3 linked regions of the Homo sapiens genome follow. The protein of the gene in region 1 interacts with the protein of each later gene in a pairwise test. Each region holds a gene or a part of one and is shown in the gene's direction. Other genes may lie near its edges.

The links.
Region 2: the proteins of ITGB1BP2 (region 1) and RARG interact in a two-hybrid assay, tested with the Homo sapiens proteins (one study listed by BioGRID).
Region 3: the proteins of ITGB1BP2 (region 1) and PDCD2L interact in binary tests that used the Homo sapiens proteins (3 or more experiments, as listed by UniProt).

What each region holds. Positions count from the first base shown.
Region 1 is NC_000023.11:71,297,598-71,304,852, forward strand, and holds the start of ITGB1BP2 (integrin beta-1-binding protein 2), read left to right. Parts: upstream 1-4,152; 5' UTR 4,153-4,209; coding exon 4,210-4,273; intron 4,274-4,539; coding exon 4,540-4,589; intron 4,590-4,679; coding exon 4,680-4,736; intron 4,737-4,813; coding exon 4,814-4,959; intron 4,960-5,664; coding exon 5,665-5,759; intron 5,760-5,863; coding exon 5,864-5,919; intron 5,920-6,029; coding exon 6,030-6,100; intron 6,101-6,214; coding exon 6,215-6,314; intron 6,315-6,589; coding exon 6,590-6,703; intron 6,704-6,944; coding exon 6,945-7,007; intron 7,008-7,255. Other genes in the region: NONO (non-POU domain-containing octamer-binding protein), read left to right, coding at 239-341, 872-911, 1,110-1,219, 2,345-2,479. UniProt on the Homo sapiens protein: May play a role during maturation and/or organization of muscles cells.
Region 2 is NC_000012.12:53,215,159-53,222,261, reverse strand, and holds part of RARG (retinoic acid receptor gamma), read left to right. Parts: intron 1-1,899; exon of another isoform or gene 1,900-2,045; coding exon of another isoform or gene 2,046-2,312; intron 2,313-6,467; coding exon 6,468-6,616; intron 6,617-6,827; coding exon 6,828-6,969; intron 6,970-7,103.
Region 3 is NC_000019.10:34,400,130-34,407,421, forward strand, and holds the start of PDCD2L (programmed cell death protein 2-like), read left to right. Parts: upstream 1-4,269; 5' UTR 4,270-4,301; coding exon 4,302-4,409; intron 4,410-4,519; coding exon 4,520-4,686; intron 4,687-4,800; coding exon 4,801-4,861; intron 4,862-7,292. UniProt on the Homo sapiens protein: Over-expression suppresses AP1, CREB, NFAT, and NF-kB transcriptional activation, and delays cell cycle progression at S phase.

The sequences.
Region 1 (7,255 bases):
TGGATTGGAGATGTTTTAGCTGCCCATGGTCCTAGAAGTTACCTGCTAAAAAGAAAGCAGCTGAATGCTGGTCTCATGAGGTTTCTTTGGGGGTTGCCTCAGGGCTGGGCACACTTAACAGTGAGTTTCCTGGTGAACTGATAGTTTTCAGTAGGCCAGTCTCCTTGGTTGAGTCTCCTGTTAATCTGCTCAAGTTCTGAAATGCCTCTGTCTTAAATACATTGGTGACTCTCTGTAGGCAGGAGGAAGAGCGCAGGCGCCGTGAAGAAGAGATGCGGCGGCAGCAAGAAGAAATGATGCGGCGACAGCAGGAAGGATTCAAGGGAACCTTCCCTGATGCGGTATATCTCCCATGTGCCCGTGATGTACCAGACCAGTCCTGATAAACTCACCATGAATTGTCTGCTAGGTTACCGGTTATGACCAATTTTCCCGTGTTGTGAAATAACCCTTTAGAAAAAAGAATTCATAAGAAGGAGAGGTAAGGTTTGAAGAGGAGATCTTGCCTCACAAGCAATATAGGATGAAAAACTGGGTCTGCTGTATTCTGTTTAGACTCAGTGACTATAGGAAGAGATATGCAACCTTGGCTAGTCCTCTGCTGTCCTTGCAATTGTACAAGTTGGAGCTTCAGAAGCAATCTCTTCCCCCTTTCACCTCTCTGTTGCTAATAGGAGGCTCTGGCTTACGTCCTAGTAGCTCTGTGACCTTGAATTTGTTGCACAACTAGCAAGGGTTGTGCTCCTCAGCTTTCTCAGTGCTGTTTGGACGTGTTATCACTCTATCTACTTCCCTTAGTGTGTGGTCCTTGATGGATTGTGGTAGAATGCACTGCTGTCTTGGACTGTCTTGAGTATTTTTTGTTTTTCAGAGAGAGCAGGAGATTCGGATGGGTCAGATGGCTATGGGAGGTAAGGACTTAGGAGGTTAATGGCTCTGATTTCCTTTTTTGTTTGGTCTTGGGTGAACTATGTAGCTTCTGCTGCCTACTTTAAGGGGGTGACATATATGTCTTACTTAGCCCAGAGGTCTTGTTGAATTGTTTCCTTTGGCATAGAAAGAGACTAACAATCTTTATCCCTTGTGCTGATCACACTACTCTGCCTTAGGTGCTATGGGCATAAACAACAGAGGTGCCATGCCCCCTGCTCCTGTGCCAGCTGGTACCCCAGCTCCTCCAGGACCTGCCACTATGATGCCGGATGGAACTTTGGGATTGGTAATAAAACTGCAGTGCCTTAACAGTAATTCTAAATGGTGGTAGGAGGAGAACAGGCATTGCTTTCACAGCCCCTGGGGGCCTACCTCAGTTTGCTATAGATAGCAGTCTTTTTTTTTTTGGAGACAGAGTTTCCCTCTTGTTGCCCAGGCTAGAGTGCAATGGCATGGTCTTGGCTCACTGCAACCTCCACCTCCCGGGTTCAAGCGAGTCTCCTGCCTCAGCCTCCCGAGTAGCTGGGACTACAGGTGCTTGCCACCATGCCCGGCTAATTTTTGTATTTTTAGTAGAGATGGGGTTACACCATGTTGGCCAGGCTGGTCTCGAACTCCTGACCTCAGGTGATCCACCAGCCTCGGCCTCCCAATTTTGTATTTTTATTAGAGACTGAGTTTGACCACGTTGGTCAGGCTGTTCTTGAACTCCTGACCTCAGATAATCTGCCCGCCTCGGTTTCCCAAAGTGCTGGGATTACTGGCGTGAGCCACCAAGCCCGGCCCAGATAGCAATCTTTAGGACTGCTGGTATCCATTAAATGTAACCTCAAGGTCTTTATTTTTGAATCTTGAGCAAACTCAGTCTCTATACTTAATCTAGGAGTTAAGTAAATGCCACCGTCTGACTGGCCAGTCTGATTGACTATGTTTGTTGGAGGGAAGTCAATGAAGGCTAGGCATTATCACATAAAATAGTTGTGAATCCAAATACTTCATGGCTCATGCAATCCTGGGGTTGTTTTGGTTATGGTGTTAAAATGCCAAAACTGGATAGTTTGGTTGTTTCTGTTTTTGTTTTTCTTTTTTTCTTTTTCTTTTTGAGACAGAGTTTTGCTCTTGTCGCCCAGGCTGGAGTGCAGTGGTGCAATCTTGGCTCCCTGCAACCTCCGCCTCCCAGGTTCAAGCGATTCTCCTGCCTCAGCCTCCTGAGTAGCTGGGATTACAGGCATGCGCCACCACTTTTGGGGTTATCCACTAGAGTTCTAAACAGACTTAGTCACCCACTCCTACCTACCATCAGGAGCCTTGAATAGTTGAATGGAAATAGCCTCCAGTGGAGGGACTACAGATGGGTGGGAAGCTTCCAACAATGGCTCTGTTACAGTGTTGCTCTCTTTTTCTCTTTAAGACCCCACCAACAACTGAACGCTTTGGTCAGGCTGCTACAATGGAAGGAATTGGGGCAATTGGTGGAACTCCTCCTGCATTCAACCGTGCAGCTCCTGGAGCTGAATTTGCCCCAAACAAACGTCGCCGATACTAATAAGTTGCAGTGTCTAGTTTCTCAAAACCCTTAAAAGAAGGACCCTTTTTGGACTAGCCAGAATTCTACCCTGGAAAAGTGTTAGGGATTCCTTCCAATAGTTAGATCTACCCTGCCTGTACTACTCTAGGGAGTATGCTGGAGGCAGAGGGCAAGGGAGGGGTGGTATTAAACAAGTCAATTCTGTGTGGTATATTGTTTAATCAGTTCTGTGTGGTGCATTCCTGAAGTCTCTAATGTGACTGTTGAGGGCCTGGGGAAACCATGGCAAAGTGGATCCAGTTAGAGCCCATTAATCTTGATCATTCCGGTTTTTTTTTTTTTTGTCCATCTTGTTTCATTTGCTTGCCCCGCCCCCGAGACGGAGTCTTACTCTGTCGCCCAGGCTGGAGTGTAGTGGCATGATCTCGGCTCACTGCAATCTCTGCCTCCCGGGTTCAAGCTTGTCCAGGTTGATCTTGAACTCCTGACCTCGTGATCTACCCACCTCGGCCTCCCAAAATGCTGGGATTACAGGGGTGAGCCACCGTGCCCAACCTCACTTGCTTCTTATCCTTACACTCCCCCAGCCCCAGAGAAACTGCCACATACACCACAAAAACCAAACATCCCCCAATGACCTTAGCCCCATTGCTCCATTCACTCCCAGGTGAGAATTCAGGCAAACGTCCACAAAGGTCACAGGCAGCGTACATACGGTTCTGTTATACCCCATATATTACCCCTTCATGTCCTAAAGAAGACATTTTCTCTTAGAGATTTTCATTTTAGTGTATCTTTAAAAAAAAATCTTGTGTTAACTTGCCTCCATCTTTTTCTTGGGTGAGGACACCCAGGAATGACCCTTTTGTGTCTATGATGTTGCTGTTCACAGCTTTTCTTGATAGGCCTAGTACAATCTTGGGAACAGGGTTACTGTATACTGAAGGTCTGACAGTAGCTCTTAGACTCGCCTATCTTAGGTAGTCATGCTGTGCATTTTTTTTTTCATTGGTGTACTGTGTTTGATTTGTCTCATATATTTGGAGTTTTTCTGAAAAATGGAGCAGTAATGCAGCATCAACCTATTAAAATACATTTTAAGCCTTTTAATTTTCTGTGGTGTTTTTGAAGGGGAAAGGAGGGAGGGGAGTTATCTTAGGAGATGAGCAGTAGACTCTATAAAGGTAATCCTTTATGACCTTTGGATTACAGTATTGATCTAGACAAACATGGGGAGGAGGTGGGGATGAGGTGCATCAAATGGCTGGAGGGGTTGGCAAGGATTAGCGCTATTGATACTACATGGAAGTAATGATGGAGGAAAGCTGCCCCTCTGAAAGAGGAAGAAAATGGGCTTAATCCTCATCGAGCTGGGGGCGCGGGGGGGGTCTCAAAATTGGTATTTGTTTCTTAGCAGCTGCTGCTGTGTCCAAGGCTTGGAATTGCTGTGGTGAATCTAAAACTGTCTCAGTAGTGGTGAGCTGACCTCACCCAAGTTCAAAGCCCTACTCTGCCTGATCCTTTTTTCCTGAGCCTCAGAGCTAAAATGCCCCCGAGCTCTTTCCTATTGGCTGGAAAGACGAATTGAAGTTCCCTTGCCCATGTTAGGAGGTGTACGCCTCCTGAACTAAAGATAGAAACAGCTGGCCCTTCCAGGCAGCTAAAAGCCTCCAGACTAAGAGGTGTTCCCCATTCGGCAGCCAGACTCCTTGAAATACCCTTTCAGTAATCATTCAACCAACGCTTCCATGTCTCTACTCTGTCGTAACAAAGGCTGTGGGCAGCACTTTGACCCTAATACCAACCTTCCTGGTGAGTAAAGAATCCTGACCTGGCCAGGGGCTCTGTGTGGGTGTTGGGGACTGGTCAGCTGGGGGGCAGTGTGTTTGAGGAGCGGGGAAAGAAACTACCTGCCCTAGTTTAATTGGTCTGAGTGATCTTACAGCCTTTGCTGGCTTTTTTTTTTTTCTTCACATTATATGGGAAGAAACCATAAATAGAAACCCGGGGAAGAGGTGAAAAATGATACTTGGTATAGTTATCTTCCCTTCCTTGATAACTTCTACTGATGTCCACAGATTCCTGTTGCCATCACCCTGGGGTCCCAATCTTCCATGATGCACTTAAGGTGAGGAGTAGGTGAGGGGGGTTAGCAAGAGCATTTCCCAGAAGAGATAATACCCAGGAAGCTAAGCTGATCTGGGTCTCTTGTTATCAGGGTTGGTCCTGCTGCCGAAAGCGAACTGTAGATTTCTCTGAGTTCTTAAACATCAAGGTAAATTATTTATGTACTTGGATTCTGCCCCCAATAGAAGGATTCTATCCCTAATCCTATCTCCTTATCTATACTAGGGCTGTACTATGGGACCACACTGTGCTGAGAAGCTTCCTGAGGCCCCTCAACCTGAAGGCCCTGCTACAAGCAGTTCACTTCAGGAGCAAAAACCTCTGAATGTGATTCCAAAGTCAGCAGAGACCTTGCGCCGGGAGAGGCCCAAGTAAAGAGGAGGAGGCCCCTGGACTTTTCTTATTTTCATGTAGCTTCCTAGGAGTGATTAATGGGTCATTGAGGACTGGGAACTAGGGACCAGGGATGTGAGGAGGGCCAGATGTCAGGGTTTGGATGGTGTATATCCTGTGCCTTAGGGGAAATTTGTGTCTGGAAATAACGCCCTTTCCTCTAAGGTGGTGTGGGATGATGGGATAGATACCTGAATCAACAGAGTAGATAGCCCCTCACAAATACATCCTTAGTGTATAACACAAAAGGGATTGTTGAGAATGACTTCTCTTTCTAGAAAAGAACTTTAAGATAAATCTCATATCAAGAAAAGGATGTATTGTATTATTGGCAGCCAGGAGACTTCCCAAATTTTGTGGGAATAATAAGAGCAACAGAAGGAAGTCATATTAGGTCCACGATTAGATAAAGAGGAAGAGGATATGACTCAGTTCTGCAGAGAAAAGTGGTTAGGTTTAGAGCAACTGAGTAGATGGGTAAGAGAAGTGCTGGGGATTTCTCTAGGGTTCAGGTATTTGGGATGTCCACAGAGATGAAAATTGGCAATGGGGTTGCTACCCAACCTCTCCAACTCTGCCTCACTTTCACCAGGCTTCTTTAATTCCATTACCATCGGTGGGAGTGTTGGAGCTAGCAATCATAGCTAATGGGTCAGAACTAAATCACCACCCTTAACCCCTAGGTCAGAGTTGCCTCTGAAGCTGCTGCCGCTAAATATATCCCAAGCCCTGGAAATGGCATTGGAACAGAAGGAATTAGACCAGGAACCTGGGGCAGGTAGGTGGGTCTTTAGTAGGATCAACTTCATAGACTGGAATTTAGTGGAAGTGGCAATTGAGTGGGGGGATGGATAAGTTCCTGACTCTGTTTCCCTTGCCCAGGACTTGACAGTCTGATCCGGACTGGTTCCAGCTGCCAGAACCCAGGATGTGATGCTGTGAGTGAGAGTTTTGAGGGGCTCAAGCATATGGCTGAGGGATGACTGGGTATAGATAGGCTGAGTAGGATATACCTTAGAATGACCTGGTTCTACTTTATCCTTCTTAGGTTTACCAAGGCCCTGAGAGTGATGCTACTCCATGTACCTACCACCCAGGAGCACCCCGATTCCATGAGGGGTGAGGGAGGGGACTGGGTGGGCTATGAGGCTATGAGACAGGTTTCTCCTAATATTTGGTCATAAGATAATATTGGGGGTGAGAGAATTCAGTTGAATTATCTTCCTACTTCAGGATGAAGTCTTGGAGCTGTTGTGGCATCCAGACCCTGGATTTTGGGGCATTCTTGGCACAACCAGGGTGCAGAGTCGGTAGACATGACTGGGGGAAGCAGGTAAGCCCCAGCTTTCCTGAACTCTTGATTAGAACCCAATCTCAGAGGTAAATTCTCCTCCCTCTCTGTACCACATAGCCAAGCTCCCTGTCTTCTCCCTTTAGTATAGACCAAATAAGATTCTGCTCCTTATCCCTCAACAGCCCAGAGGTTTTGCAATATGAGGTTGTGTTAATCTTTTTGAGACTCTCTGTCTCTTCTCCACGTGCATCATGAGAACTCCCCTTCAGTTAAGAATTTATTCTTACCACCTGCATTTCACATCTTCTCTTTAGCTCCCAGCATCTTGCCGCCATGATTGGCACCAGACAGATTCCTTAGTAGTGGTGACTGTATATGGCCAGATTCCACTTCCTGCGTTTAACTGGGTGAAGGCCAGTCAAACTGAGGTGAGCAATGATCTGATGTTGGATGGGAGGATAGTCAATTGGGTGATACTACAATCTCACAGGCAGAGTTGCCATTTGCTGTTAACCTGTAGGCTCCATAGTACCCTTAGAGGAAAGGAGAGTTATTAGGTCAGGGCTGTCTGGCCAACCTGTGGATCATACCTCTGACCTGGTTATCTGTCGTAATGACCTATTCTGACCTTCTGGGTTTGTTACTACCCCTGTAATTCTTTTCTCTCAGCTTCATGTCCACATTGTCTTTGATGGTAACCGTGTGTTCCAAGCACAGATGAAGCTCTGGGGGGTAAGTGAAGACCAGGGGACACAAGAGTGGGAGGCAGATGGGTGAAAGAGCGGCTAGACTGGAATAGAGGGTGTCTTGAGGGAAGGAGTTGTACTAGGAAAATGGAGGTTTTCTCTTCATTTGCTTTCATTTTCTCTCTCTCTCCTACTCTTCCTATTTCCCTCTTTCCCTCCCCTCTTCCTTCTCCCTTTTCATCTCTCATTTCTTTCCTCTCTCTCCCTTATTGTCTTATTCCTCCCTTACCTTTT
Region 2 (7,103 bases), on another chromosome or scaffold:
CTTCTTTCTTTCTCTTTCTTTTCTTTCTCTCTCTTTCTTTCTTTTTTTTGTGGGGTTCGGGTGACTGGATTCAGAAATGGGTATTTGGGGTTGGGGGAGGAGAAGGGAGTTTACACTGGGTTGGAAAGAGCAGTGCATTCCCTCTCCATCCCTGCTTCAAGCCCCCTAGTCAGCCTTGCCACCCCGAGGTTTCCTCGCCATCCACAAGTCAGGCCTTTTCCCAGCCCCGGCAGCCCCCCGCCCCTCCCCCGCGCCCGCCATCCCTCGCCTACTCTGGCACCCCTTCCTGCCCTTTATTCTTCCAACAGGCGCCCCACTCCTGCAGCACCCCAGTGCGCCCCCCACCCGGTACAACAGATTCTTAGAAAAGCGCGCCCCGCCCTGGCCCAGCCACAGCCGCCTGGCGGGGGAAGGGCCGGGCCGGGCGCCGCTCCCGCTCCGCGGCGCTGCCCGTGTGAGCGGCGCTGACAGAGCCGGCTGGGCAGGCAGGCCGGGCGGCCCGGCGGCTGAGGGCGGGGCGCGGGGGAGGGGGGGATTTCCGGGAGTCGCCGCTGCTGGCGCTGTCCGGGGCCAGGGTCCCCCCATTCGGCCCTGCCGGGCCAGGGCAAACTTCTGACGTGGCCAGCCCCCCGCCCACCTCACCCCCTTCTCCGCCGGGCGAGGGCGCTCAGTGCCGGAAGGGGCAACCCAGGGAACAGTGTTGCGGCCTTGGAGAGCTGAGGGGCACTAACCGAAGGGAGGGCAGTTATGCCTAGGCTAGAGGGTATTTAAAGACCCTGAGAACAGTCAGTGACCAGAAGCGCCCCTATTGCCGAGGGAGCCCTTGGCAGTGAGAAACTGGAGGAGGGGAGTTGGCCATCAGGGGCAGATTCATCGAGGCGCAGTTGGCACGGCAGGCACAGCTTATGGGGTAGTTTTGTGCTCTAAAAGTGAAGTTATGTTCGAAGAAGGAGCATCGAGAGAGACGGTCGAGGCGCTTAGGGGGCGTCAGTTGCGGGATAAGGCTTCGGGGACTCGGAGGGAGGCGGCCCGGGCCGCGGCGGAGGGCGGACTGCTCGGGCTAGGAGGGGTAGACTCTGGCTGCGCTGGAGGGGGCGGGGGGACTCCGCGGCAGCGCTGAAGACGGCCTGGGCGGGGTGGGGCGGGGCCGGGTCAGGAGGAGGTGAGCGCGCTCGGCCACCCGCCCCGAGGGGGGTTCCCAGAGAGTTCACGGCGGGAGCGCGCTCCGGCCCTAGGACCGCGGGTGGGGAGACGGGAAGGAAGGAGGAGGCAGCGCGCGCCGAGCCGCAGGAATGCACTTTTCGGCCCTGAAGCGGGCGCGCGGAGGGCGAGGGCGGAGCCAGGCCTGGGAATGAGAGGGGTGGAGGTAGTGCAGGTCCCGAGCCTCAGGAGAGCAGCTGCGCGCGGGGACCTCCACGTTCCCCTCTCCCCAGTCATCCTTAACACCCCTGTATTGACTAGTGTGAAAAAGGGAGAGTTTGGGGAGAGGGAAAACTCTGAAAGGAAATGCTTATGCTTGGTTCCTCCTCTCCTTCTTCCAACCCCGACCTGGGCACGCGCCTCAGTGCAAATGCATGCAAAGCCTATGAGCTGTGGAGAGTATGCCTGCAAGCATTCTCCCGAGCAAGGTGTGTTTGCACAAACGTGTGTGCACCTATGATTTTATATGCGTGCTCACATGTATGTTCACTCTTGCATATTTGCAAATTCTTGGTGCCTGATAAGATAAATGCATGCACGGATGTGTGTCTAAGCAAGCGCGCGCGCCGCGGAGCGAGTGTACGTATGTGTATGTGTGCGCTCCACTCTCAGCTTTGCTCATCTCGGTGCCCGGCCCCCTTCGCTCTCCAAGCCCCACCCCCCACCCCTCCAGGCTTCGCTTTTAAAAAAGGTCTCCCCAGTGCTAGCTGCCGAAGCACCCAGATAAGAGCTGGACGGAGGCTAAAGCGGCAGCCCCAGCTTCGCGCCCCGCCCAGTCCCTTTCCCCTGCTGGGGATCCCCCCTCTTCCCCGCCCACCCCTTACCCGCATGCAGCCCAGCGCCCTATGCTAGCCCTCCCCCTCCCCCCCTGCTGGAGCGGGGCGCCGCCGGGGGAGGAGGGGGAATCGGCTGCGGGTCCTTGGTGTTTCCAGCACCCAGTTTCCCTTCAAGCCGGGTCGCGATGTACGACTGTATGGAAACGTTTGCCCCGGGTCCGCGACGGCTGTACGGGGCGGCCGGGCCCGGGGCCGGCTTGCTGCGCAGAGCCACCGGCGGCTCCTGTTTCGCCGGACTTGAATCTTTTGCCTGGCCGCAACCCGCCAGCCTGCAATGTAGGTACCGGAGTCCGGGGCTGGGGTGTAGGGTGCAGGAGAGGGTGGGATTTACTCTTTCCGTGTGTAAAGAGTGGAACTGAGGTGCAAGGAGGAGCTTCTGGCCCTTTCTATGTAAGGTACTGGCCCTTTAAACGTGGGGGCCTCAGCGTCTCCTTTGCGTGTGTGCAGTAGTGTTTGGAGTGTGTGTGGTTTTTATGGTGGGTGTTTAGCTCGAACCTGTGGTTGATGCCACTCCAGAGTTCCTGGGGATAGGGAGAGACCGAGGTGTGTGGGTAGTTTGCGCCTTCACGTCCGTGGCCCTGGAAGGATATGACACTCAGGACCGTGGGTGGCGTTTGTAAAGCCCATGTGGGAAGCTGGCAGTGTTAAAAATATCGTTTGCAGAGCGTGTGAATCCCTGGAGTGTGCAGCGCCTTGCCTAGGTGGTGTGGGTGTGGGAGCAAGGGTCTCTCCACCAGTGTCGCCTGCGACAGCTGCCAGGTCCACATGGCCTGTGAGGGGATGTTTGTGGCGTGAGGCCGGGAGGGCGTGTGCCCCTGCGTGGCTGCGGGGGCGGTTTTGGAAAGTGCTGTGTTCGAGAGTGCATCCTGTGTGTTCTCATGCCGGGTGGAAAAGGTTGTGCACACAAGAGGGAGAAGGCTGAGTTTTGTACGCCACCCCCATATAAAAAAAGAAATGTTTGGAAACGTGTATGCGGTTATATGCAGAGATTACTTTTTCCTATGGCTCCAACACACAACAACTTCAGCAGGAAGCGAAAAGTTTAAAGCAAAGTCTGTGTGTGTGGTGGGGGGTGGCCTGAAGTTGACAGCGGCAGGGCGAGCACCATTACTGGGTCCCCAAATATCTATCTTCCCCCTCCGTGAAATGGGAGATGCCAGGCCTGGGGCCCTGGAACCCCTTTCCAGAGCAGTAATAAAAAGCTGGGGACTGAGAGGCAGTAAAAATGAAGTCCAGATGAGAGGCGGCTTTGAAGCTTGGGCCGCAGTGCCTGGCGGGGGTGGGGTGTGGGGAGGGGCCAGGAGCGCAGCCTGGAACACCCCCCAAATTTACCCTGGGCTGGGATGTGCTCGCTGCCTGGGTGCGGACGGCCCGGGGATGAGGGGCTTGGGGGCACGCTGGGAAGGGTGGGAAGGGGCGGGCAGCGGGCGGGGCGGCGGGCGCTGGGGGAGTGCGCACGCCAGGTCACCAAGCCCCCGCCAACGCGCCTCGCTCCTTGGCACCAAGCAGTGCTGTTTACAAGTTCGGATTTTTTTTTTTGGTTCCAGAGCAGAGCTGCTCAAATTTAACAACTGGGAAGCTGGAAGAGGGAGATGGCAAACCAGGAGACCGGACTTGACTTTACTTTTGGGTGGGGTGGGGGAAGAATTTAAAAGTGTGTCATTTAAAGAACCGAGAAAGCATGGAACTATTGCTTTGCACCAAATCCCTGTGAATTCTTAACTTTCCTCTCATTGCCCAATAGGATGGGGAGTTGGGGTATGTTATATGTTGTGGGGGTGCTGAGATGGAAAGAATCTTTCAGGAAGGGCTTCTGGGGGCTGGGCAGAGACCCTGTCTTTTTTCAGGCCTATGGAAGAAGCCCTTTGGGCTTGACTGGCCCTAGGTTTTTGAGTTTTAATTGGGACCAATAATTTTGGCCTCTGGGATCCTGGTGGACACACAAAGCCAGCTTCAGGCCTGCCCGCACACACTTTCAGAGGGAAGGGTGCTTGGGGGGTGGAGGTGGGCTGGATGTGTGTGTGTGTGTGCCTGTTTGGAGGCTTTGGTGTCCTGGTGCTGCGTTGGCAGGCTGGGGTGTTTGTCTGGTGGTAGGGCTGTTCCCTTGTGTGGCCAAGTGCTGGCTGTTGTGTGTCAGCCTTGTGACTGGTACATCTACCTCCACGGTGTAGCTGGAGTGAGTGTGTCTCTATTCTGGCTGTGTGTCTGTGCCAGAATCCAGTGAGGGTTCTAGGATCCCATTGTAATATGCCTGCTTTGGTGCCTTATGTGTTGTTAACCTGTGAGTGTGTGTGTCTCCAAGGAGGTGTGTGCTAGATTGTGAGTCCAGGCTGCTCAGCTCTGAGCCTCGCAGCTGGGAGCGTTTACAGCCGGTTATAAAGAGTTTGTTTGAAGCTCCGCGCAGCCTGGTCAGGAATTTCCTCAATTTCAGCAATTTGGGCTTTAAAAGGAGAAAACCCCAGAGCCCACCCCCATCCTCCCCAGCAGGGGCCCCTGCCTAACCCAGGAGCTGCATCCCAATGGTGGGGTCTAAGCCCGAGTCTGGGGAGGGGATCTGATTGGAGTAGACCCAGTTAGCTTTCTGGGGCCTTGACCTCACAGATTGACCTCGGAGCCACTAGGCTGCACTTTAGGGTTCAGGGGGTGGGGATGTGACAGTATCACTTAGACAGGAAAAGTTGCCCCCGGGCCTGTCTCCCTAAGGCCCCCAGTCTTATAATTGGCTGGCACTGCCCCATGCCAGTCTGACCGCACCCAGGCCCTTGCGCAAGAGAGGAAATGAGGCAGCGCTCTGCGGGCAGGGAGGGCGTCAGTGCCAGAGTGAGCACCACCCCACGCACAGGCCTTGGGCAGAACACGTGCCCTTGGAGGACACAGTGGTGGGTCTGAGGAGTGAGGAGAGGTTGGGAAAGGCGTTCCAGCCCTCCTCACATCTCTCAGCACCAGCCCCTCCTGGAGCCCCCATCCCTAGTCTTGAATAGACTCCAGGCACCCTTCTTTCCCCCCTCTCCTCTCTCCTTTTTCTTTGGGTAATCTCACTCTGGCAGGATTCTTATGCTAATTGATTGTATGTGTGTTGGGGGTGGGTAGGGCTTCCCTCCTGTGGGGTGGGTGGAGCTAGCGTGGAACCCTGGCATCCTGGGCATTCCTTCCGCCCTTCTGGCTGCGTTGGGGCGGGCTTCTGACCAGGTGGGCTGCAGAGGGTTAGAAGGGAGAAGGTGTTCATGAGGTGGGTGCGTGGGACACACCTTAGGGAGGGTCTTAGGAATTTTTTTGCATTAACTTGGGCCCTCCAGGTTTGGGCAACAGGTCCTACAGGTTGAATAATTTACAAATTTTCCGAGCCTCTGAAGACCAACCACACGCGCGCGCGCGCGCGCGCGCACACACACACACACACACACTTACCCAGCAGCCTTTTGAACAGAGCAGAGCATGTCCTCCCCATACTGTGGGGCTGAGACCCCTTTTGAGCTGCAATTGGGTATTTTCAGAGTGAAGACATAAGCTCAGAGAGGGTCCAGAAACAGGTTCCCTCCCCCATCAGTCCTGTTTACCTACTGTCACCTGACTTCTCCAGTTTGCTACACCTCCAACGGCTTCCAGACCTGAGAAACTGAGCAAACACCTCAGCCTCTGCTTCCCCAGCTTCTCTGACTCACAGCCACTTGGATCTGCTGGTGGTGTGGCACTGAGCTGGTCACTTCCCCTCTCGTGGCCTCAGTTTCTTCAGGCGTGAACCAAGGCTGTGGTGCATCCTCTCACTCACTCCCCTGAGACCTTTGCCCCATTTGCTCCACTGTCTCTGATGGTTATTCAGGGGTAGTGTGAGAGAGATAAGCCTGAGGAGTTATCCCCCCTGTACTACTGGAAAGGAAATGAGGTCCTGGTTTACCTGCTAAGCATCCCAGCAGGTCATTTGGCCAGTAGCAGCTACAGGAAGCCTGTCATTGCCTACCTGCCCCCAGAGTTATTGCCCCACAGGGAGGACAGTGGGAAGTAGACTACCTGACAAAGATATACCAAAGAGACAGAGAGTGACTAGAGAGCTCAGAGCTGCAGGGCTTTAACTCTTCTACCCACCTCCTGGATAGTTAGGGAAACAGGCCCAGAGAAGTCAATTTCCGGAATGGCCTTGGTCTGGAATTTGGAGGATTAAACATGTCATATAGGATGAGGGCTGGCATTCTTGTGAACAAGTTGGTTAGACTGTGGAGGGTAGAGGGTGAACTAGGGTCACAACAAGCTGTGGTAATAGTGGTCATTAAGAGGATTCTGACAGTGCTTACTGCTGGAACTAGTGCACTGTGGTAGTGATGGCTGTCACCAGTGGGCCAAGGAACAAATGCACATGGGGTGTGTGTGATGAGGAAGCCTGGAGGTCTGTGGGGTCCTTCTCCCCTGACCCTCACATCACTGCTTCCCTCCCAGCGGTGGAGACACAGAGCACCAGCTCAGAGGAGATGGTGCCCAGCTCGCCCTCGCCCCCTCCGCCTCCTCGGGTCTACAAGCCATGCTTCGTGTGCAATGACAAGTCCTCTGGCTACCACTATGGGGTCAGCTCTTGTGAAGGCTGCAAGGTGTGTACGTGGTGGGAGTGGGCAGACGGGGGATCCAGTTACCCTAGTAAGATGAGAGACCAGGCACACAGATGCTGTGTCTGAGCAGCACTGCTTTGCACATAGGTGGTTAATAGATTAGGTCAGGCTTGGGGCAACCTGCAAGGCCAGTGAGAGGCTGGTACTCCCAGCATTGTGCTTCAGAGGCCCTCTCTCTTTCCCTCAACTCCAGGGCTTCTTTCGCCGAAGCATCCAGAAGAACATGGTGTACACGTGTCACCGCGACAAAAACTGTATCATCAACAAGGTGACCAGGAATCGCTGCCAGTACTGCCGGCTACAGAAGTGCTTCGAAGTGGGCATGTCCAAGGAAGGTAGGCTGCCATCCTTGGCTTGGGCAGGAGCACTTCGGTCCTACCCTATGGCTGTGGCCCTCTTTCCTCTGGCCACTCCCACTTCCCTGACCTCTGAGACTTGGCCTGCCCTGGGGTGCTGCCTTCTCCCAGGC
Region 3 (7,292 bases), on another chromosome or scaffold:
AGAGCACCCTCTGGTTGTGGGCTTGGACCACGAGCCCTTAGCAGGGAAGGCTGGTCTCCCCCAGCCTAACCCCCAGCCCCTCCATGTCTATGCTCCCTCTGTGTTAGAATTGGCTGAAGTGTTTTTGTGCAGCTGACTTTTCTGACCCATGTTCACGTTGTTCACATCCCATGTAGAAAAATAAAGATGCCACGGAGGAGGTTGTAGGCTCAGCCTCTGATTTTTTTTTTCCTGTGATGGTGCTTTATGTAGCAGAGGGCAGGAGCGCTCAGCAGGACGCAGGCTGTGCCTCTGCGGACACTTAACACTAAGTGGTGAGCGGGTCTAGAGTGGAGCAAGGTGCCCTGAGAAGACAATAGTGGGGTGGGGGCACAATCAGTCAGGACGGCAACTTGGCCTGTGTCACCAAATCCCAAGACTGTTTTCCACTCCTCACCTCTGTGACTGCAGAAATTGGATACTCTGTTCACTCGATGGTTCTAAAAACTGCATTGAGATTATGTTTGTTTCGGGTGAATTCCTGGACAAGACCGAGGATGACTGCCATCTCCTGGCAAGACGCTCAGGTAGTTCTTTTGCTTTAAAAGGCAGATATTGAAAACTGGAATTTTTTTTTTTTGAGTCTCGCTCTGTCACCCAGACTGGAGTGCAGTGGTGCAATCTCGGCTCACTGCAACCTCCGCCTCCCGGGTTCAAGCTATTCTCCTGCCTCAGCCTCCCGAGTAGCTGGGATTACACGGCGCACACCACCATACCCAGCTAATTTTTGTATTTTTAGTAGTGAAGGGGTTTTACCATGTTGGGCAGGCTGGTCTTGAACTCCTGACCTCAGGTGATCTGCCCGCCTCAGCCTCCCACAGTGCTGGGATTACAGGTATGAGCCACCACGCCCGGCCCATTTTTTTTTTTTTTTTGACAACTTTTTTTTTTTTTTGAGACAGGGTCTTGTTCCATTGCCCAGACTGGAGTGCAGTGGCATGATCACAGCTCACTGCAGCCAGTAATCCTCTTGCCTCAGCCTCCCAAGTAGTTGAGACTACAGGTTGTACCACTATGCCCTGCTAGTTTTTTCATTTTTTGTAGAGAGACGGGTCTTTTTTTTTTTTGAGACGGAGTCTCGCTCTGTCGCCCAAGCTGGAGTGCAGTAGCACGGTCTCAGCTCATTGCAAGCTCCGCCTCCCAGGTTCACGCCATTCTCCTGCCTCAGACTCCTGTGTAGCTGGGAGTACAGGCACCTGCCACCATGCCCGGCTAATTTTTTATATATTTTTTTAGCAGAGACAGTGTCTCACTGTGTTAGTCAGGATGGTCTCGATCTCCTGACCTCGTGATCCGCCCGCCTCAGCCTCCCAAAGTGCTGGGATTACAGGCGTGAGCCACCGCGCCCAGCAAGGCGGGTCTTGCTGTGTTTCCCAGACTAGACTGGTCTTGAATTCCAGGGCTCAAGAGATCTCCCACCTCAGCCTCCCACAGTGCTGGGATTACAGGCGTGAGCCGCCACACCCAGCCTATTCAAAATTTTTTTTTCTTAGAGACAGGGTCTTTGTTGCCCAGGCTGGACTGCAGTGATACAATCATAGCTGACTGAAGCCTCAAATTCCCAGGCTAAGGTGATCTTCTCACCTCAGCCTTCCAAGTAGCTGGGTCCGCAGATGCATGCCAGTACACCCAGCTCATTTAAAAAAAAATTTTTTTCTTTTTTGAGAGTCTTGCTTTGTTGCCCAGGCTGGAGTGCAGTGGTGTGATCTCGGCTCACTGCAAGCTCCACCTCCCGGCTTCACGCCATTCTCCTGCCTCAGCCTCCCGAGTAGCTGGGACTACAGGTGCCCGCCACCACACCCGGCTAATTTTTTGTATTTTTAGTAGAGACGGGGTTTCACCGTGTTAGCCAGGATGGTCTTGATCTCCTGACCTCATGATCCGCCTGCTTTGGCCTCCCAAAGTGCTGGGATTACAGGCGTGAGTCACCGCGCCCGGCTCATTTTAAAATTTTTGTAGATCAGTGTACTGTTGTAAAAAAAAAAAAATAAGAAAAATAAAAAATAAATTTTTGTAGTGATAGGATCCCACTGAGGCCAGAGAATAGGGTCTGGAGACAAAGGAGCATTCACTTCAGCCTCTGACTGGTGGCAGGCCAAGTCTTTATTTACATAGGGTGTAACCAAATAGGAAACCTCTAAAGGGTACTTAAACCCCAGATTTTCTACACAGGGCACTTGCTTGAGCCTCATCCCGCTTTCTGGAATGTACTTTTGCTTCAATAAATCTGTGCTTTTGTTCCTTCTTTTGTTGCTTTGTGTGTTTTGTCCACCTCTTTGTTCAATATTCCAAGAACCTGGACGACTTGTAGTCAAGATCCTCCCCTGGTAATACTACTGTGTTGCCCAGGCTTATCTTCAACTCCTGGGCTTAAGAGATCCTCCTGCCTTGGCCTCCGAAAGTGTTGGGATTACAGGCGCAAGCCACTGTGCCCAGCATCACAGGGCCTTTTAAAGCTATCAGGATGAAGTGTGGTAAAAAAAGGAGTAAATGGGTTTCATCTCCAGATCCTTGCTGGGCTAGAGCCAAACCTCACAAAGGCTGGTGCTTCCTCCTTTGAGGTGTAAATCCTTGAAAACATTCATTTCTTTTGCATACCACGTTATGAATCCTAAAATAATGTTTTTGCAGCCTGCATTTTTAAAAAGTCAGGTTTATTGGGGTGTGATTTACATATAGTAAGATTCACCTTTCTTTGGTATACAGTTATGAGTTTTCACAAGTGTATATACAGTCTTAGAACCATTACAGATGAGATATACAGCATTTTCCTCACCCTCAAAAGTTCCTGACACTTGTGGTCCAGTCCTACTCCCTCATCCCAACTCCTGACTACCATTGAACTGATTTTTTTCCCTCCGAAGTTCTGCGTTTACCAGAATGGCGCCTTTTGTGTCTGGCTTCTTCCCATGATGCTTTTGAAATTCACCCATGTTGTGCTGCAGGAATTGAAAAAACTGTATTGTGTGGCTGGGCGCGGTGGCTCACACCTGTAATACTAACACTTTGGGAGGCCGAGGTGGGCAGATCACTTGATTTCAGGAGCTCGAAACCAGCCTGGCCAACATGGTGAAACCCCGTCTCTACTAAAAATACAAAAAAGGCCGGGCATGGTGGCTCACGCCTGTAATCCCAGCACTTTGGGAGGCCAAGGTGGGCGGATCACCTGAGGTTGGGAGTTCGAGACCAGCCTGACCAACATGGAGAAACCCCATCTCTATTAAAAATACAAAATTAGCCAGGCATGGTGGCACATGCCTGTAATCTCAGCTACTCGGGAGGCTAAGGCAGAAGAATCGCTTGAACCTGGGAGGCAGAGGTTGCAGTGAGCTGGGATCACGCCAGTGCACTCCAGCCTGGGCGACAAGAGCGAAACTCCGTCTAAAAAAAAAAAAAAAAAAAAAGCCGGGCGCCGGGCGTGGTGGTGGGCGTCTGTAACCCCAGCTACTGGGTGGGGCTGAGGCAGGAGAATCACTTGAACCTGGGAGGCTGAGATGCAGTGAGATGGCGCCACTGCACTTCAGCCTGGGCGACCCAGCAAGACTCTGTCTCAAAAACAAAACAAAACAAAACAAAAATAAAAACTGAAAAATCTCAAACATATAAAACCCAAATAGAATAAATCTCCATGTGCCTGGCACCAAATTTCAACAATTATCAACTCATGGTCAATCTTACTGTATTTACACCCCACCACCTTAATTATGTAGTAGCAAATCGGAGGTATTTCATCTATAAGCATTTTGGTGTGTTTCTCTAAAAATTAAAAACTTTAACTTTTTAAAAAACTTTATTGTTCTTGTTAATGACTGATAATACCATTATCCCACCTAAAATTTTTATTTTCCGGGAAGGCTTTTTTCTGGTGGCTCACACCTGTAATCGCAACACTTTGGGAGGCGGAGGCGGGAGGATCGCTTGAACCCCAGGAGTTCAAGACCAGTGTGGGCAATATAGCAAGTCCTCGTCTCAGGAAAAAAAGGAAAAAAGAAAGTTAGCTTTTTGGCAAAACTACTTCCTAGTAGATGGTGTGTACTTCCTATCACAGCGCATTAAGGGGCACATAATGCCTGGGACTCCGGGATTTCGAGCCCCTGACGCCAGCGGCGCCTCTGTGGCTCTGGGACCTGAGCGCACGCGCCTTAAAGCCACGCCTCCGCATCGGATCCTAGTAAGGGAGCGGGGTTATCATTTTAGCGTAGCGTTGCGCGTGCGCAGAGAGGCCGCCGTAGTTTGCGTTTTCACCTGGTCGCCCGGCGGCCATGGCGGCCGTTCTGAAGCCGGTGCTGCTGGGCCTTCGAGATGCGCCGGTGCACGGCAGCCCCACAGGGCCGGGTGCCTGGACTGCTAGCAAGCTGGGCGGCATTCCGGTGAGGGCGGGTGCCGGAGCTGGGGTCGATGGGTGCTGCTGAAGGGTGCGGAGGGAGTGGGCGAGGTCCTGGGGGGAGTCGGGGTCTGAGCGCCTCCTCTGTCCCCTCAGGATGCTCTGCCCACCGTGGCTGCGCCCAGGCCCGTGTGTCAGCGCTGCGGGCAGCCGCTCGCTCTGGTCGTGCAGGTGTATTGCCCGCTGGAAGGCTCCCCGTTTCACCGTCTGCTGCACGTGTTCGCGTGCGCCTGCCCCGGCTGTAGCACCGGCGGTGCGCGCAGGTAGGCGGGGAAGTCCCAGAGCTGCTCCAGGGGTGTCCTTTCCAGCGGGCTGGGGCGGGCCGGCGGGCTGGAGTCGGGGTGCAGCCCTCACGGCCCTTTGTCTTCACCCCGAAGCTGGAAGGTGTTCCGCTCCCAGTGCCTGCAGGTGCCAGAGAGAGAGGCGCAGGACGCTCAGGTAAAGGTTGTGATTGGCATGTTATTGTTTTTCTGTCATTTGAGGATATTTTCCAGAGAATAGTTTGGGGCAGACTTTAAAGCCGTGTTCTTTGAAGTACACTGGAGTGTTTTTTGCTTTTCTGAAGAACCATAAAATGCTATTTTCGTAAAGTTTTTTTTTTTTTTTTTTTTTGAGACGGAGTTTCGCTCTGTCGCCCAGGCTGGAGTGCAATGGCGCGATCTCGGCTCACCGCAACCTCCGCCTCCCAGGTTCAAGCGATTCTCCTGCCTCAGCCTCCCTAGTAGCTGGGATTACAGGCATATGCCACCACGCCCGGCTAATTTTGTATTTTTAATAGAGACGGGGTTTCGCCATGGTGGTCAGGCTGGTCTCGAACTGCCGACCTCAGGTGATCCACCCGCCTCGGCCTCCCAAAGTGCTGGGATTACAGGCATGAGCCACCGCGCCCGGCCTTTCTTAAGGTTTTGTGAGAGTTTTTTTTTTCTTCTATTTTACTTTATTTTTATTTTCTAACTCCTTTGTTAAAAGGAGATGGAGGCCCAGCATGGTGGCTCACGCCTGTGATCCCACCGTTTTTTGAGAGGCTGAAGTGGGAGGATTGCTTGAGCTCAGAAGTTGGAGACCAGGCTGGGCGCGGTGGCTTACGCCTGTAATCCCAGCACTTTGGGAGGCCGAGGCGGGCGGATCTCCTGAGGTCAGAAGTTCGAGACCAGCCTGGCCAACATGGCGAAACCCCGTCTCTATTAAAAACAAAAACAAAAAATTAGCCGGGCATGGTGGCAGACACCTGTAATCCCAGCTACAAGGGAGGTTGAGGCAGGAGAATCGCTTGAACCCGGGAGACAGAGATTGCAGTGAGCTGAGATCATGCCACTGCACTCCAGCGTGGGTGACAGACTCCGTAAAAACAAAACAAAACAAAACAAAAGAAAAAAAAAACGTTGGGAGAGCAGTCTGGGCAACATAGCAAAACATCGTCTCTATAAAAAGTAAACAAATTAGCCAGGCATGATGGCCACGCAACTGTAGTGCCAGCTACTCAGGAGGCTGAGGTAGGAGGATTGCTTGAGTCTAGGAGGTTGAGGCTGCAGTGACCTACACTTGTGCCACTGCACTCCGGCCTGGGCCACAAAGCCAGACCCTGTCCCCTGCCAAAAAAACAAAAGGGAGATGGAGACTTCCTCCTGGATTTCTTCAACTTTTTTTTTTAACTGTAAATTGACAGTTTATAATAATGTATAAATTTATGAGGTATAAAGTGATGGCTATGATTCATGAATATCATGTGGAATAATTAAATGAAGCTAGTTAATGCATTCATCACCTCAAATACTTAACATCTTGTGAGAACATTTGAAATTTCCTCTAGCAATTTGGAGATACACAATACTCTTATTTTTTTTTTTTTTTGAGACGGAGTCTTGCTCTGTTGCCCAGGCTGGAGTGCAGTGGCGCCGTCTCTGCTCACTGCAAGCTCCACCTCCTGGGTTCACACCATTCTGCCTCAGCCTCCAGAGTAGCTGGGACCACAGGCGCCCGCCACCACGGCCAGCTAATTTTTTCATTTTTTTAAATTTTTAGTAGAGACAGGGTTTCACCATGTTAGCCAGGATGGTATTGATCTCGTGACCTTGTCATCCACCCACCTCGGCCTCCCAAAGTGCTGGGATTACAGGCTTGAGCCCCTGTGCCCAGCCACAATACTCTATTATTAACTATATTCATGCTGTGCAGTAGAACTTAAAAAAAACCCACATTCCTCCTGAATAACTGAGGTTTTGTATTCTTTGACCGTCATCTCCTTATTCTTCCCGCTCCAGGTTTCTTTCTTCCTTTTTTTTTTTTTTTTTTTTTTTGAGACCGAGTTTCGCTCTTGTTGCCCATGCTGGAGTGCAATGGCACAATCTCAGCTCACTGCAACCTCCACCTCCCGGATGCAAGCGCTTATCCTGCCTGCCTCAGCCTCCCTAGTAGCTGGGATTACAGGCACTCGCCACCACGCCCAGCTAATTTTTATATTTTTAGTAGAGAAAGGGTTTCACCATGTTGGCCAGGCTGGTCTTGAACTCCTGACCTCAGGCAACCCACCCGCCTCGGCCTCCCAAAGTGCTGGGATTACAGGCGTGAGCCACCATGCCCGGCTCACTCCAGATTTTTTTTTTTCTTTGAGATGGAGTTTCGCTTTGTTGCCAGGCCGGAGTGCAGTAGCACAATCTTGGCTCACTGCAGCCTCCGCCTCCCAGGTTCGAGCAATTCTCCTGCCTCAGCCTCCTGAGTACCTGGGACTACAGGCACACACCACCATGCCCAGCTAATTTTTGTATTTTTAGTAGAGATGGGGTTTCACCGTGTAGCCAGGATGGTGTCGATCTCTTTACCTCGTGATCCACCCGCCTTGGCTTCCTGAGGTGCTGGGATTACAGGCGTG